Homo sapiens: one gene and its partner. The protein of the gene in region 2 purifies or fractionates together with the protein of the main gene of each other region. This does not show direct contact. Each region holds a gene or a part of one and is shown on either strand. Other genes may lie near its edges. The genes, in order: SEC16A and SEC24C.

Region 1 (7,269 bases), on a different chromosome or scaffold from region 2:
GTGGCGAACCGGCACCGCGTGCTCAGGAACACAGGCGGCACACGCCAGCTCTCATGTTAGTGAGGACCACCAGCCGCAGGTACCTGATTAAAATGCTGGCTCACTTCACGTGATAATGAACTCATTGAACTACAGCGCGAAAGCTACAAAACAGCAAGAACACACATAAAACACGGACGAAAGTCAACATGCACGTCACTGTCCAATCCAAGCTGTCAGTTCCATTTCAAAAGCTTTGTGATGCCATTAGAATCAACATAACTCAAAAGGGAAAAAAAAGCCAGTGTTAGCTTAAGATTCCTGTCTTAATGTAAAGCTGTTATCCCGAAACAACCATTAGCTTAGGGGAGGGCTGGGAGGAAAAGTCCAGCCTCGGCCTAAGCCAGCTTCACCTCCTGACACCTCACAATTCAAGACAATTCCCGTGCTGTTGAAGGGAGAGGACCGGGACTGAGGCGACAACTCAAACCCCCTGCACCCCTCCTGGAGCTCCCAAACAGTTTTGTTAAAACAAGTGCAATTTTTTTTCCCCCAGGAACACCACCTTCGAGGTGCTCTTGTTTCTAAACTGCCTCTTCCTACCCAGTACCGCCCCTCCATAAAGGAAGAGGCGCCTGGACAGTGAGCTGCTGGGGAGGCCTGGGCTGCGGGGGGCCCTGGCGTCGGCACTCCTTACCTCTCCTCCCTGGGAACCCTCAGGCCTGGAGGAGGGGAGTTCAGAGCCAGGGAGTGACGCTGCAGAGCTTAAAACCTGCCGAGGAAAAGAAGAATTGCAGCAACCAAATCCCAGGGAATTTAAGTCTCTCACACCAGGCCAAAAAATATGAAACTGTTCTGGCCTGGGTTACAAACGCCCTCTTCCACGTAAAGTGCTCCTCAGAGAGAAGTGAAAAGTGCCTCACACGTGGGTCCAGCCGCACAACCCTGTTGACTCTAGACCCCTGCAGCTCTCTACCAGGTGCCTGTGTGTGCCCATGACAGGCTTGCAATCTGGGGCTACTGTTATTCCCATTTTACAGAGGGGAAAACTGAGGCTTAGACAGGTGAGTGACTGCCCCATGCTTTACACAGCTGATGAATGGAGAACAGGATTAGGCCCAGGCCTGTCCCACCGTACAGAGTGCAGTCTGAGCTGGTTTTTTTTTTTTTTTTTTTGAGATGGAGTCTGGCTCTGTTGCCCGGGATGGAGTGCAATGGCGCAATCTCAGCTCACTGCAACCTCTGCCTCCTGGGTCCAAGCGATTCTTCTGCCTCAGCCTTCTGAGTAGCTGGGATTACAGGCACCCGCCACCACACCCAGGTAAATTTTGTTTTTTTTTTAGTAGAGATGGGGTTTCACCATGTTGGCCAGGCTGGTCTCGAACTCCTGACCTCAGGTGACCCGCCCAGCTCAGCCTCCCAAAGAGCTGGGATTACAGGCATCATCCACCACTCCCGACTGGTCTGAGCTGTTCTACTTCACATGGGAGTCATTTGTTTTTTGTTTTTTTTTTTTGGATGAAAATATACTTAACTTTTATTATCGGTAGGTAATTTCTCTGTAACTTAGAGTAATTAATTTTACTTTTTCCAATTTTAAAAATTGTAAAATATACATACTGTAAAATTTGCCACTTTAATCATTTTTAAGTTTTAAGCACATTCACCGTGCTGAGCAACCATCACCGCCACTATCCCCAGATCTCCGTCTTCCCAAACAGCTCTGTCCCGCCCGGCACCCTGCATTCTACCTTCCGTCTCTACCATACATAAGTGTGAGGCGTTTAAGGCGGAACACTCTACGTACACATTGGATACTGACTTGCAGAAGGCAAGGCCCTGTCTGGCAGGATGGGGAGGTGCCTCCTCACTGGGTACCTTTCCCCTTTCCCACCGTACCCGCTCACCTTGGGCTCTGGGGCAGGCTCTGGATTGGCCAGGCCCCTAGCTGCTGCAGGCCCTTCCCTGCCAGTCCCGTCTGGAAGCTGTGGTTCTTCTGCATCTGGGGATGAGAGAGCGAGGAGGCCATCATTCCGTCCCGAACGTCCCTGGGGTCTCACTGAAGACACTCCGAGAGGAAGAGAGTTTCACACTGCACACGCGGCACACTCATGCAGAAACAGGCAAATCAAAAAAAAAACCACAAACCAACCCCAGGCTCTCTGCATGCTGGCCAGGTCATTCTTTTAACGGGAGATTTAGGAGAGACTCATAGAAAGAGGATCAAAGGTCAGGAGACTGGGGGCTGACCTGGAGGGGCTGGTGCTCGTGCTACCTACCTGGGGTTGGCACGAACAAGTTAGAAGGAATTGGGAGTGGCGCGAGTGGAGCGACAAAGTCCGCAGGAGCGAGAGCCGGCTCGCTCCGCTGGGTCCCGCTTGGGTTCAGGACGTCAACGTAGCGAGCTCTGGTTCCTGCTGCAAAGGGGAGGGAAGCAAATTGAGGTGAACGCGCCAGGTGGCCTCCAGCTTCCAAATGCTCTGCGCTCACTGCGTCAGAGGAAAAGCACGCAGGGACGTGCGGGAAGCCACCTCCTCCCCACGCACAACAGCTACACATTGGCCTCTCTCTCTGGGACAGTTAATCGTTCAAGCAAGCTCCCACTCCAAGGCCACCCTTACCTGCTCTTCTAGAGTACATGTTCACGGGGGCTCCAGGAGGCCCTGGGAGGGCAGGCGGGGCAGCTTGCACAGTCTTGGGCATCGAGGTTGGAGGTGGGGGCGGGGCTTTCTTCTGCAGAGGGAAACACAGCTTCAGACACCCACTGTGTGCACAGAAACCCACTGGGATGGCACAGTCAGGAGGCTCCAAAAGGGGCAACAGCCACCCAAATATCACAGGGCCACATGAGGCTGTTCCCTCCACTCACACCTCACACCCAACAGGAACTAGAATGACAATTTACCTCCTCTTCTGGCTCATTTAAATTCACCCACTGGTTTTTCTTTTCATCCCAAACAATCTGCCAAGATTTTAAAAAGAAAAAAGGTCAGCAGACTGAACCTAAACAGAATTAGCATCTGATTAATGATGACACTTCAAAACTTCAGGAAACACCTACTCAGGTCTGCTCTGAAAGTGACAGAAAAATCATTACAATTCTTCGGACGTCCCGTGCGTATTTGACAGCACTCACCGATTTGTTCTTGTCATCTGGCAAATAAGCTTCTGTCTTTTTCTTTCCAGGTAGCCAACGAAAGAACCAGGATTCACCCTAAATATAAAAAACACGAGAACAACTTTGAAAACATTATGTTCCATGAAATAAGCCAGGGCAAAAAGACAAATTCTACATGACCCACTTCTGTGAGGCCCCAGAGTCGCCAGATCCACAGAGACACCAGGAGAATGGAGGTGGGAGCAGATCCACAGAGACACCAGGAGGATGGAGGTGGGGAGCAGATCCACAGAGACACCAGGAGGATGGAGGTGGGGGGCGATCCACAGAGACACCAGGAGGATGGAGGTGGGGGGCGATCCACAGAGACACCAGGAGGATGGAGGTGGGAGCAGATCCACAGAGACACCAGGAGGATGGAGGTGGGGGGCAGATCCACAGAGACACCAGGAGGATGGAGGTGGGAGCAGATCCACAGAGACGCCAGGAGGATGGAGGTGGGGAGCAGATCCATAGAGACACCAGGATGGAGGTGGGGAGCAGATCCAGACACACCAGGAGGATGGAGGTGGGGAGCAGATCCACAGAGACACCAGGAGGATGGAGGTGGGGAGCAGATCCAGAGACACCAGGAGAATGGAGGTCGGGGGCAGATCCACAGAGACACCAGGAGGATGGAGGTGGGGGGCAGATCCACAGAGACACCAGGAGGATGGAGGTGGGGAGCAGATCCACAGAGACACCAGGAGGATGGAGGTGGGAAGCAGATCCAGAGACACCAGGAGGATGGAGGTGGGAGGGAACCGGGAGTTGTTTCGTTTCAAGGAGACAGAGTTTCTGTTTGGGAAGGTGAGACAGTTCTGGAGATGGATGGTGGTGATGGCAACACAACAGTGTGAATGTACTTGGTGCCACAGAACTGTGCACTCAGAAAATGGTAAAAATGTGCATTTTGTTCTGTGTATTTTACTGTCATTTAAATAGGTCAGAACAGTAACGTGCCTTCAGGAACTTTTTACGTCTAAACACTGACAAAGCTTCCGACGTCCTCCCCTTTGAGAAGTGGAAGGCGGGCTGTCCAAGTCAGTGTGTGTCGGAGGCAGATACAGCCCTCTGTGTTTCCCATGTGTGGAGAATTCGGTTATTAGGAAACTTTACTTTATTCTTCACATGATGCACTTCATTTTGGTTTGTTAGTTTTCTGAGACAGAGTCTCGCTCTGTCCCCCAGGCTGGAGTGCAATGGCGCGATCTCGGCGCACTGCAACCTCTGCCTCCCGGGTTCAAGTAGTTCTATGCCTCAACCTCCTGAGTAGCTGGGATTACAGGCACCCACCACCATGCATGGCTAATTTTTGTATTTTTAGTAGAGATGGGGTTTCACCATCTTGGCCACGCTGATCGTGAACTCCTGACCTCATGATCTGCTCGCCTCAGCATCCCAGAGTGCTGGGGTGACAGGCGTGAGCCGCCGCACCCTGACTCCCAGAATGCTGGGGTGACAGGCAGGAGCTGCTGCGCCCGGCCTCCCAGAGTGCTGGGGTGACAGGTGTGAGCCGCCATGCCCGGCCTGATGCACTTCACTTCTACTGAAGAAAGAGGAGAAGCCTCAGCAGCTACTACACACCCTCAATTCTGTTTCTCTGTGAGTTCTACTGGCCAGACAAGCTGTCCCGGGGAGGCCTGTGATAGCCTATGCACTGGAAACCTGCTCAAGTATCATGTTTTATCTCAGAGCTCACACAAATTTGGAATTAAATGTGTGTTTATTTTCAAGACAGCAGCCATAAAAGAAAAATCTGATCACTGAACTTTATTAAAATGAAGAATGATATTTTTCATAAAATACCATTACTAGGCCGGGCATGGTGGCTCACACCTGTAATCCCAGTACTTTGGGAGGCCAAGGCAGGCAGATCACTTGAGGTCAGGAGTTTGAGACCAGCCTGGCCAACATGGTGAAACCCCATCTCTACTAAAAATACAAAAAATTAGCTGGGAGTGGGGTGGGCACCTGTAATCCCAGCTACTGGAGAGGCTGAGGCAGGAGAATTGCTTGAACCTGGGAGGCGGAGGTTGCAGTGAGCCAAGATCATGCCAATGCACTCCAGCCTGGCTGACAGAGTGAGACCCTGTCTCAAAACAAACAAACAAACAAACAAACAAAAAACCATTACAAGTAAAAAGGCAATCTACAGATTGGGAGAAGATATCACAATAAATACACCTAACAGAGGACTTATATCCATAATACAGAAAGGACTCCTGCAAGTCCTGAAGAGAACACCATTAAAAATGGAAAGGAAAGCCAGGTGTGGTGGCTACACCTGCAGTCCCAGCTACGAGGCAGGAGGATCACTTGGGCCCAGGAGTTTGAGACCAGCCTGGGCAATAGTGAGACCCCATCTTTATGGGGGAAAAAAAAAACAACGGATAGAGACTTGAACAAGCACTGCCCCAAAAGAGTGGTGAGATGGTAACAGGGACACGAGAAGGTGCCCAGCGTCACACCTCGCTGTGGAGATGCAGAGGAAGACACAATGAGATGTCATCAGCCCCAGCACAATGGCTAAGTTAAAGAACCGGCACTGCCCAGTATTGGTGAAGATGAGGGATATCCAGGGCCCTTGTCCTCTGCTGCAGGATGTGTGACTTGGGGCAACCAACCATTTAGGACAACTGCTCAGCAGTGTCTCCTAAAGCTGAACACACGCTCATCCTGCGAGCTAAACCCTCAGCTCCTTGGCACGCACCTAAGAAAAACAAGCGCATTCGCCAATAGATAGGCAAGGAGGCTCCTGGGGCCTGACGGATCCCAGCCCCACACTGAAAGCAGTCCCAAAGTCCACGGCTGGGAGAAAGGATCTGTGAGCCGGCAGCAGGCACACACCACAGTGACAAAGCAGCGGCTGCCGTCTGGTCCCTTGCGGGTGGGTCTGACAGGTAGTGGCCAGAGGCGACCTCTGGGGGCCGGGCTGTGTCCCCATGCTGACCTGGGTGGGCTATTATCCTATTATCTGAAGGCACAAATACACAGACACCCATCATGCCGTGTGCACTGTAGACACTCGGCTGTTTGTATCAGGAGGCTATTTGCATGTGTGGTGAATTAAGAGGATGGCGCTCTGGGAAGCGTGCCTCCTGCCCAAACCCTCCCGGCCGCCAGGCGCACCGTGGGCAGGCTGTACTACCTTCTTAGGTTCCTTCGTTTCTTTCTTGGCTGCCTGTCCGGGTCTCTTTGTTTCGGGAGCGGGTGAGAGAGACAGAGGTGGCTGCGTGGGACCCGAGTCGGCACGATCCCACCCTGGGGGGGCCTCCGAGTCTGGCACCGTCCTCGAGGGGGTCTGTCGCAAGGAAATGCAGAACAGGCTCTCCTGGGGCTCCTCACAGGAACCGAAAGAGAGAGGGGGATGCAATTCCCCAGGCGTGTTTCCTAAATACATCACTGAGAGGCCGGATGACTCTGGTGACCAGAGGGAGGCAGGAAGGGGGCTGGGGAGAGCAGCCCCCTGACTGGGCCTCCCAGAGCCTCTACCTGGCCTGACTAGAGAAGAGCCAGCCGCACTTAATAAGCAGCTCCGTCTGGGAGCACTCAGCACTCAGAATGCAAATGAGGGCGTTCGATGGAGATTCCGGGCTGGAAGAAACGGAGTGTGAGCATGCACTGAGGGAAGACTGGCCAGAGGGGGGCGATGGGTGTTCTCAAAGATACAATGATTTTTAAAAATATTTATTCCTGGGTCAAGTCCCAATTTTTAATAGCTCAACCCTCATTTTTACTTTTCCAGGGACACAGTATTTTAAAGGGTAAAACACCTAATGCAAGTTCAAACTATAGCAATCGCCTACTGATGGGATGCCCGTGAAGGGCTGGGTATCTGTAAAGAAGGTTCCAGAATGCGGTCTGTATAAAAGCAACCATCCCTCCTGGTTAGGAGTAGAGCAAACAGAGGAGGTATTTATACCAAACATGTCTAATGAGATAAATCTCACTTTCAGGAAAACCAGTGACAATGTTAGAAATTCTACTGAATTCCAGGACATCCTCTTGTGAGATCAAAAAATTAGAAAAGAAATTCTACTGTAGAAAAAGAGACGGCCGGGCTGGGCGGGGTGGCTCATGCCTGTAATCCCAGCACTTTGGGAGGCTGAGGCAGGTGGATCATGAGGTCA
Region 2 (7,269 bases):
ATTCTGAGTCTGATAAGGAGGGCCTGAGGATTCTGATGGCTCCAAGGGTGCAATTCACCCTCTTCCTGAAAAAAGCAGCTCTCCAGTGGGACTTTACATACACACTGCCCTCATAAACTGTCGTTCACTCTTCCCCATCCACACAGCAGAAGCCTACCAAACAAAAGTACTGGGGACTTCCTCCTAAAACTGTCCAAGTAAGAGCAGAGAAACCAGTGAGGCTTTCCTTCTCTTAACATCTAACATCAGAGAATTCCCACCTGCTCTACCCATTAGGAAGAATGCCATCCTTCTAGATCTAAGGGGACAAGACCCAGTCACTGCTCCACAGAAGGACAAAGGCTACTATACTATGTATGTACAGTAGTGACAGAGTGCAGCCCTCAGACATCTACTGGTGCTGCTGCTCACTCTTGGTTTCCCTTCCTTCTCTGCCCAGCTATAGAGTAAAACAGCCCCCCAAAAGACTCCTAGAACCTCAAGTTCCAGTTCAGAATCAAATTATATGTAAGTTCTCCAAGAAGATGAACAAAAAGGGAAAATTATCAGAAAATGCTAGGCAAACATTTCATCTAGATTGACCTGCCTATCTGGCAGACACAAACCCTTCCTCAGGACCATGAAAGTTTCTACTTACAGGGCTTGGGATGGCATCAGGGTCCAGGCGCTTAGGAGGCAGTGGCTGAGGAGGCCCAGGCTGACTGCCAAAGGTGGGTGCTGCTGGGTAGGGGCCTCCATAATTAGACTGAGGGCCCCGGGCTGGTCCGAAGGAACCTGAGACAAGGACACAAGGTTGATGAACTCAAAATCCCATCCCTATCTCTTCTTAAGGCCTCAGGAAAATGACTAGACTCCTAAAAACATAGAATTATGAGGCACACTAATGCCTGGCAAAGACATTCAGAAAAATACCATGTTATCAGAACGACAAGAAAAAATAATGTCTTACAAACCCCATATCCTAGGAATAATACCCTGAAGCTACCCATCTAATTCACCACTTAGCAAGTAATACTAAAAACAAACAAATAAAAAACATCAAAAACCACCTGAGTAGCTGAAGCCTCTAGCTTCTAAGACAGACCTTGGGAAAGACTCACCATTTTGTTGGGGCTGATAGCCTGGCTGCTGCGGGGAGTGCATAGGTGGCAGTGGTCCCAGGGGCCCAGTCATCTGGGTGCCAGGGGGCAGAGCTTGAGGAGGTGAAGACACATGGTTGGGCTGGCTCACTGAGGGCCCTCCAAAACTCTGTCCAGGCAGGAGTGGACCAGTCATCGAAGGCAGCCGAGGACCCCCTGAAGCTGGGGGTGTGAAGCTGGAGGCCTGTGATGGGGCAGATCGCTGGGGAGTCTGGATCCCAGGATGACCTTGGGCCTGGCTAAGGGGAGGAGCCTGGCCCTGAGGATAGGAGCCATACAGACCAGAGTTAGGGAAACTTCCTGAGGCTGAAGCCAGCGATGTTGGTGGGCCTGAGAAGTAGAATAAAGGTAGAGTCAAAAGCCCAGTCATTCTGCCTCCTTGTTCGGTATATCACTTCCCTTTCCACACAAGAGGGGCAAATATGACTGTCCCATCTTCTGAGGCTCAGAGGCACAGGAAATACAAGGGAAATAAAAGAGATTCAGGTATAACCCCAGAGTCTGATGCCTCTGAACAGGGGACAGTAACATTCCTGTGTTCACAGCCACTCACCAAAGCCCAGCCCTGAAGAAGGAGGGGCTGGGGCCACAGCACCGCTGATCTGCATTCCAGACAGCTGCGTAGCCACCTGTGCACTTGTCGGGGGAGGGCCATAGGGCTGAAGCACAGGTGGCTGGTTGCCCACAGGGGCCAATGGGGACCCAAATGGCTGAGACCCAGGCAGCCTGTGAAAAGAAAGCAAGCAGAGGTGACTAGTGGGGCCAGGACACCCTTTGAAGTCTACAGAAGTGTCACATCATACAGGAAGCTACATTGTTTTGTGACATCTTACTCTCACACCCTGAGTTCTTTTATGGCTTCATACTTTTGTATATTTGTGGGTAAATTATATTCCTGATTATTCATGGCAAATCTTGTTTTCCATTAAGCTCACTCCACAAACATAAACCAAGCACCTTCAGGTCAAGTACTATTTACTCTGCTAACTAAATTACTGCTTCCTCTGCTTCAATTCTTTGACAAACCTCTTCAGTTTTGTAATCTGAAGCCCTGAAAGCACTGAAAGGGAAGGCACGCATAAGCATGCATGAACCTTAATAAATATGAAATCAAACAAATGCAGATTGATTGTCCAGCTTTTTTTTTTTTTTGAGACAGGGTCTCACTCTGCCACCCAGGCTGAAGTGCAGTGGTGTGATCACAGCTCATTGCAGCCTCAACTTTCCAGGCTCAGCTGATCTTCCCACCTCAGCCTCTCAAGTAGCTGAAACGAAAGTCACACGCCACCATGCGTGGCTAGTTTTCGCATTTTTTATAGATACGGAGTCTCGCCATGTTGCCTAGGCTGGTCTCAAACTCCTGAGCTCAACGAATCTGCCCGCCTCAGTCTACCACAGTGTCTTTCCAATATACTTTCCATTCAGTGTCTCCCTCTCTGATTATTCCCATCAGCACAAAAACATACAAACATCTCACACACACACACACACACACAAAAACCAACTATAGTGGAAACATCCCAAATGTCTATCAGCAGAAGAATGGATAAACAAAATGTGGCATGTAGCTACACAATGAAAAACCACTTAACCACAAAAAGGAATGGAGTACTAATATACACTACAACATAGTTGAACTTTGAAAATATTATGCTAAATTAAAGAAGTCAGTTATAAAATATCACATAGTATATGATTCTATTCTAATGAAAAGTCCAGAATAGGGAAATCTTTAGAGACAGAAAGTAGATCAGGAGTTGCTTAAGGTTGGAAGAATAGGGGAATGGGGGAATAGCTAAACAGGGGTAGTTAAAGAATGCAGTATTTCTTCTTCAGATGATGAAAATGTTCTAAAACTGACTGTAGTGATATCTGTCAATATACTAAATTGTGACAGCACATATCTGTCAATATATTAAAAACCACTAAATATACAAAAACACTTTAAACAGACGAATTGCACAGTATATGAATTATATCTCAAAAAACTTTTTAAAAATCCAACCAAATTACCTCACAGCCCCCTCAAACTTTTGCTCCCCTTTTAGCTAAACATTACAAAAGAATAGGTCTATACTCTGTCTCTACTTTTTTTTTTCTTTTCTTTTCTTTTGAGACAGAGTCTCACTCTGTCGCCCAGGCTGGAGTGCAGTGGTGCGATCTTGGCCCATCACAACCTCCACCTCCTGGGTTCAAGCAATTCTCCTGCCTTAGCCTCCCGAGTAGCTGGGACTACAGGTGCCCACCATCATGCCTGGCTAATTTTTGTATTTTTAGTAGAGACGGGGTTTCACTATGTTGGCCGGGCTGGTCTCGGAACTCCTGACCTCGTGATTCGCCCGCCTCAACCTCCCAAAGTGCTGGGATTACAGGCGTGAGCCACCGTGCCCAGCCTTACGTTTTTTTTTTTTTTTTTTTTTTTTTTTTGAGACAGGGTCTCGCTCTGTCACCCAGGCTGGAGTACAATGGCACTCACTATCTGTGGCTCACTGCAGCCTTGACCTCCTGGGCTCAAGCAATCCTCCCCCTAAGCCTCCCCTCCCAAGTATCTGAGACCACAGGCACACACCACCACACCTAGCTAATTTTTTTTATTTTTTGTAGAGACAGGGTCTTGCTATGCTGCCCAGGATAGTCTTGAACTCCTACCCCGGCTTCACAAAGTGCTGGGATTACAAACATGAGCACTGTGCCTGGCCCAACTCTAATCAAAGTGCCTTTCTCCGATAATCCCTTCCAGCCCGGACTGAGGTGTGGTTGTTCTACATTTGTTTCCAGAAGGTACTCCAATAATGACAGTGTCACCCTAGATTGATTTTTTTTTTTTTTTAGTTTTTGAGACAGGGTCTCACTCTGGCACCCAGGCCACAGTGCAGCGAAGCCATCATGGCTCACTGTAGCCTCAACCTCCAGGGCTCTAGCAATCCTCCTGCCTCCACCTCTGCTTCCCAGGCACACCAACAATGCTCAGCTATTTTTTTTTTTTTATAGCGACAGGATCTCCCTATGTTGCCCAGGCTGGTCTAAAACTTCTGGCCTCAAGTGATCCTCCTGTCTCAGCCTCCCAAGGTGTTGAGATTACTACAGGCATGAGCCACTGCACCTGGCCTCTAATTTAAAAAAAAAAAAAATTAGGCCAGGTGCAGTGGCTCATGCCTGTAATCCCAGTACTTTGGGAGGCCGAGACAGATGGATCATTTGAGGTCAGGAGTTCAAGACCAGCCTGACCAACATGGTGAAACTCCATCTCTACTAAAAAAATACAAAAATTAGCCCAGGCGTGGTAGTGCACACCTGTAATCCCAGCTACTCAAGAGGTTCAGACAGGAGATTCACTTGAACCTGGGAGGTGGAGGTTGCAGTGAGCCAAGGTCACACCACTTCACTCCAGCCTGGGTGACAGAGCGAGACTTCATCTCAAAAAAAAAAAAAAAAAAAAAAAAAAAAATTGGCCAGGAACAGTGACTCACACCTGTAATCCCAGAACTTTGGGAGGCCAACACAGGTGAATCACTTGAGGTCAGTTCAAGACCAGCCTGGCCAACATGGTGAAACCCTGTCTCTACTAAAAATACAAAAAATTAGCCTGGCATGGTGGTCATGCCTGGAATCCCAGCTACTTGGGAGGCTGAGGCAGGAGAATCACTTGAACCCAGGAGGCAGAGGCTGCAGTGAGCTGAGATCGTGCTATTGCACTCCAACCTGGGCAATAAGACCAAAACTCTGTCTCAAAAAAAAAAAAATATTACTGAGATGTAATTTCCATACCATTAAATTCACTTCAAGTGAACAATTCAATGATTTTTAGTAAATTTAGTTATGCAACCATCACCAGAATCAAATTTTAAAACATTTTCATCATTCCAAAAAGATGTCATGTCCATTTGCAGTCCCAAGAACTTTTTTTTTCACCCATCCACAGCCAGCCTGAGAGAAACAGCACTCCTTATCTCCCCTTTCCAGCGTGCAGACTTTTTTCCCCTAGTCAGCTTGTTCAATGAAGGTGCAGCCCAGGTCCAGACTTTATAAACAATGTCTCAGTTCCAAAACTACTCTCAGGAAAGCCCAAGGACTCATCTGCCTTCCCCAGTACCTGCTTAAATTTAAGGCCCTGGCTTCTCAAGATGATGAATCCACCCAATCTACAGGCAGCTCCAGAGTCAATTTACCACTCTGATTTTCAGTCCTCACTTGATGGCCAGGCACAGTGGCCCATGCCTGTAATCCCACCACTTTGGGAGGCCAAGGTGGGCGGTTCACCTGAGGCGAGGAGTTTGAGACCAGCCTGGCCAACACGGTGAAACCTCATCTCTACTAAAAATACAAAAATTAGCCGGGCATGGTGGCCCACATCTGTAGTCCCAGCTACTTGGGAGGCTGAGGCAGGGGAATCGCTTGAACCTGGGAGGTAGAGGTTGCAGTGAGCAGAGATCGTGCCACTGCACTCCAGCCTGGGCGACAGAGCAAGACTCTGTATTTAAAAAAAAAAAAAGATTTTCAGTCCTCACTTGGTCTCTAAAACTTAAGAATTTCACATTTTCTTTCAAGCTTAACTTTGCACTTAAAAATTTTTTTTGTTTCTATTTTCTCTCTCCTTTCTAGACTTTGGTAGCAGAGGGTTTTCAGATTATGTCAATCTACCACCCGGTTGAAACTTTTTTTTTTTCCTGAGACGGAGTCTCGCTGTCTGTCGCCCAGGCTGGAGTGCAGTGGCAAGATCTCGGCTCACTGCAAGCTCTGCCTCCTGGGTTCACGCCATTCTCCTGCCTCAGCCCCCCAAGTAGCTGTGACTATAGGAGCCTGCCACCGCGCCCAGCTAATTTTTTGTATTTTTAGTAGAGACGGGGTTTCACCGTGTTAGCCAGGATGGTCTCGATCTCCTGACCTTGTAATCCACCCGCCTCGGCCTCCCAAAGTGCTGGAATTACAGGCATGAGCCACCGCGCCTGGCCTGAAACTCTGACTCACTCCAACTGGGTAGTTTTCTTTATCTCTACACTGAAACTGCCTTTACCAATGACGCCAACCTTGCCAAATTCAATGGTCAATTCTCCATCTTCATCTTACAATTTGGCAGCATCTGACACAACTGATTACTCTCTCACCTTCTTGAAATACTCTCTTCACCTGACTTCAGGACACCACACTCTCCCGGCTTATCTCCCACCTCACTACTGCTCTTTCTCATTGTCTTTTGTTTTTTTTTTGTTTGTTTGAGATGGGGTCTTACTCTGTCATTCAGGTTGGAGTGCAGCGGTGCGATTTCGGCTCACTGCAACCTCCGCCTCTTGGTTTCAAGCCATCCTCCCACCTCAGCCTCCCAAGAAGCTGGGACCACAGGCATGTGCCACCACACCCGGCTAATTTTAGTATTTTGGTAGAGACAGGGTTTCACCATGTTGCCCAGGCTTGTCTCGAACTCCTGAGCTCAAGCAATCTGCCTGCCTCAGCCTCCCAAAGTGCTGGGATTACAGGAGTGAGGCACTGCACCTGGCCCCTCATTGTCTTTTAATGGCGGCTCCTCTTTACTTTTAAATGTTGCTAAGCTCCAAGTCTCAGTCCTCAATTCCATTCTTTAATCTCAATACTCACTTTTTAAATGATTTCATCTAGTCCCACGGCTTTAAATATCTATAGACTGAGGACTCCCAAATTTTTATCTCCAGTCCTAGCATCAGTCTTGAGCTGCAGATTTGTATATGCACCTGCCTACCTAACATCTCTACTTGAATAGAGTTTATATGAGGGACTTGAGCCTTTGTGGATTTTGGTATCTGTTGGTCAGGGGAGGTCCTGGAACCATTCCCCCATGGATACTGAGGAATGACTGTAGTGAGATTTGGGATACATCTTGAAGGTGGAATCAATAGAATTGGATGTGGGTTATACGGCATCATATTTGCATATAACCTCCCATATACTTTTTTTTTCCTGAGACGAAGTCTCACTCTGTCGCCCAGGATGGAGTGCAGTGGCACAATCTTGGCTCACTGCAACCTCTGCCTCCTGGGTTCAAGCGATTCTCCTGCCTCAGCCTCCCAAGTAGCTGAGATTATAGGTGCCCGCCACCACACCCAGCTAATTTTTGTATTTTTAGTAGAGATGGGGTTTCACCATGTTAGCCAGGCTG

The links.
Region 1: the proteins of SEC24C (region 2) and SEC16A purify together in Homo sapiens (affinity purification with western blotting; 2 studies listed by BioGRID and IntAct, with this or other methods). This does not show direct contact.

What each region holds. Positions count from the first base shown.
Region 1 is NC_000009.12:136,444,969-136,452,237, forward strand, and holds part of SEC16A (protein transport protein Sec16A), read right to left. Parts: intron 6,441-7,269; coding exon 6,288-6,440; intron 3,194-6,287; coding exon 3,116-3,193; intron 2,942-3,115; coding exon 2,885-2,941; intron 2,713-2,884; coding exon 2,601-2,712; intron 2,397-2,600; coding exon 2,259-2,396; intron 2,048-2,258; coding exon of another isoform or gene 1,982-2,047; coding exon 1,887-1,981; intron 752-1,886; coding exon 677-751; intron 144-676; coding exon 84-143; intron 1-83. UniProt on the Homo sapiens protein: Acts as a molecular scaffold that plays a key role in the organization of the endoplasmic reticulum exit sites (ERES), also known as transitional endoplasmic reticulum (tER).
Region 2 is NC_000010.11:73,754,218-73,761,486, reverse strand, and holds part of SEC24C (protein transport protein Sec24C), read right to left. Parts: intron 1,866-7,269; coding exon 1,693-1,865; intron 1,470-1,692; coding exon 1,101-1,469; intron 775-1,100; coding exon 638-774; intron 1-637. UniProt on the Homo sapiens protein: Component of the coat protein complex II (COPII) which promotes the formation of transport vesicles from the endoplasmic reticulum (ER).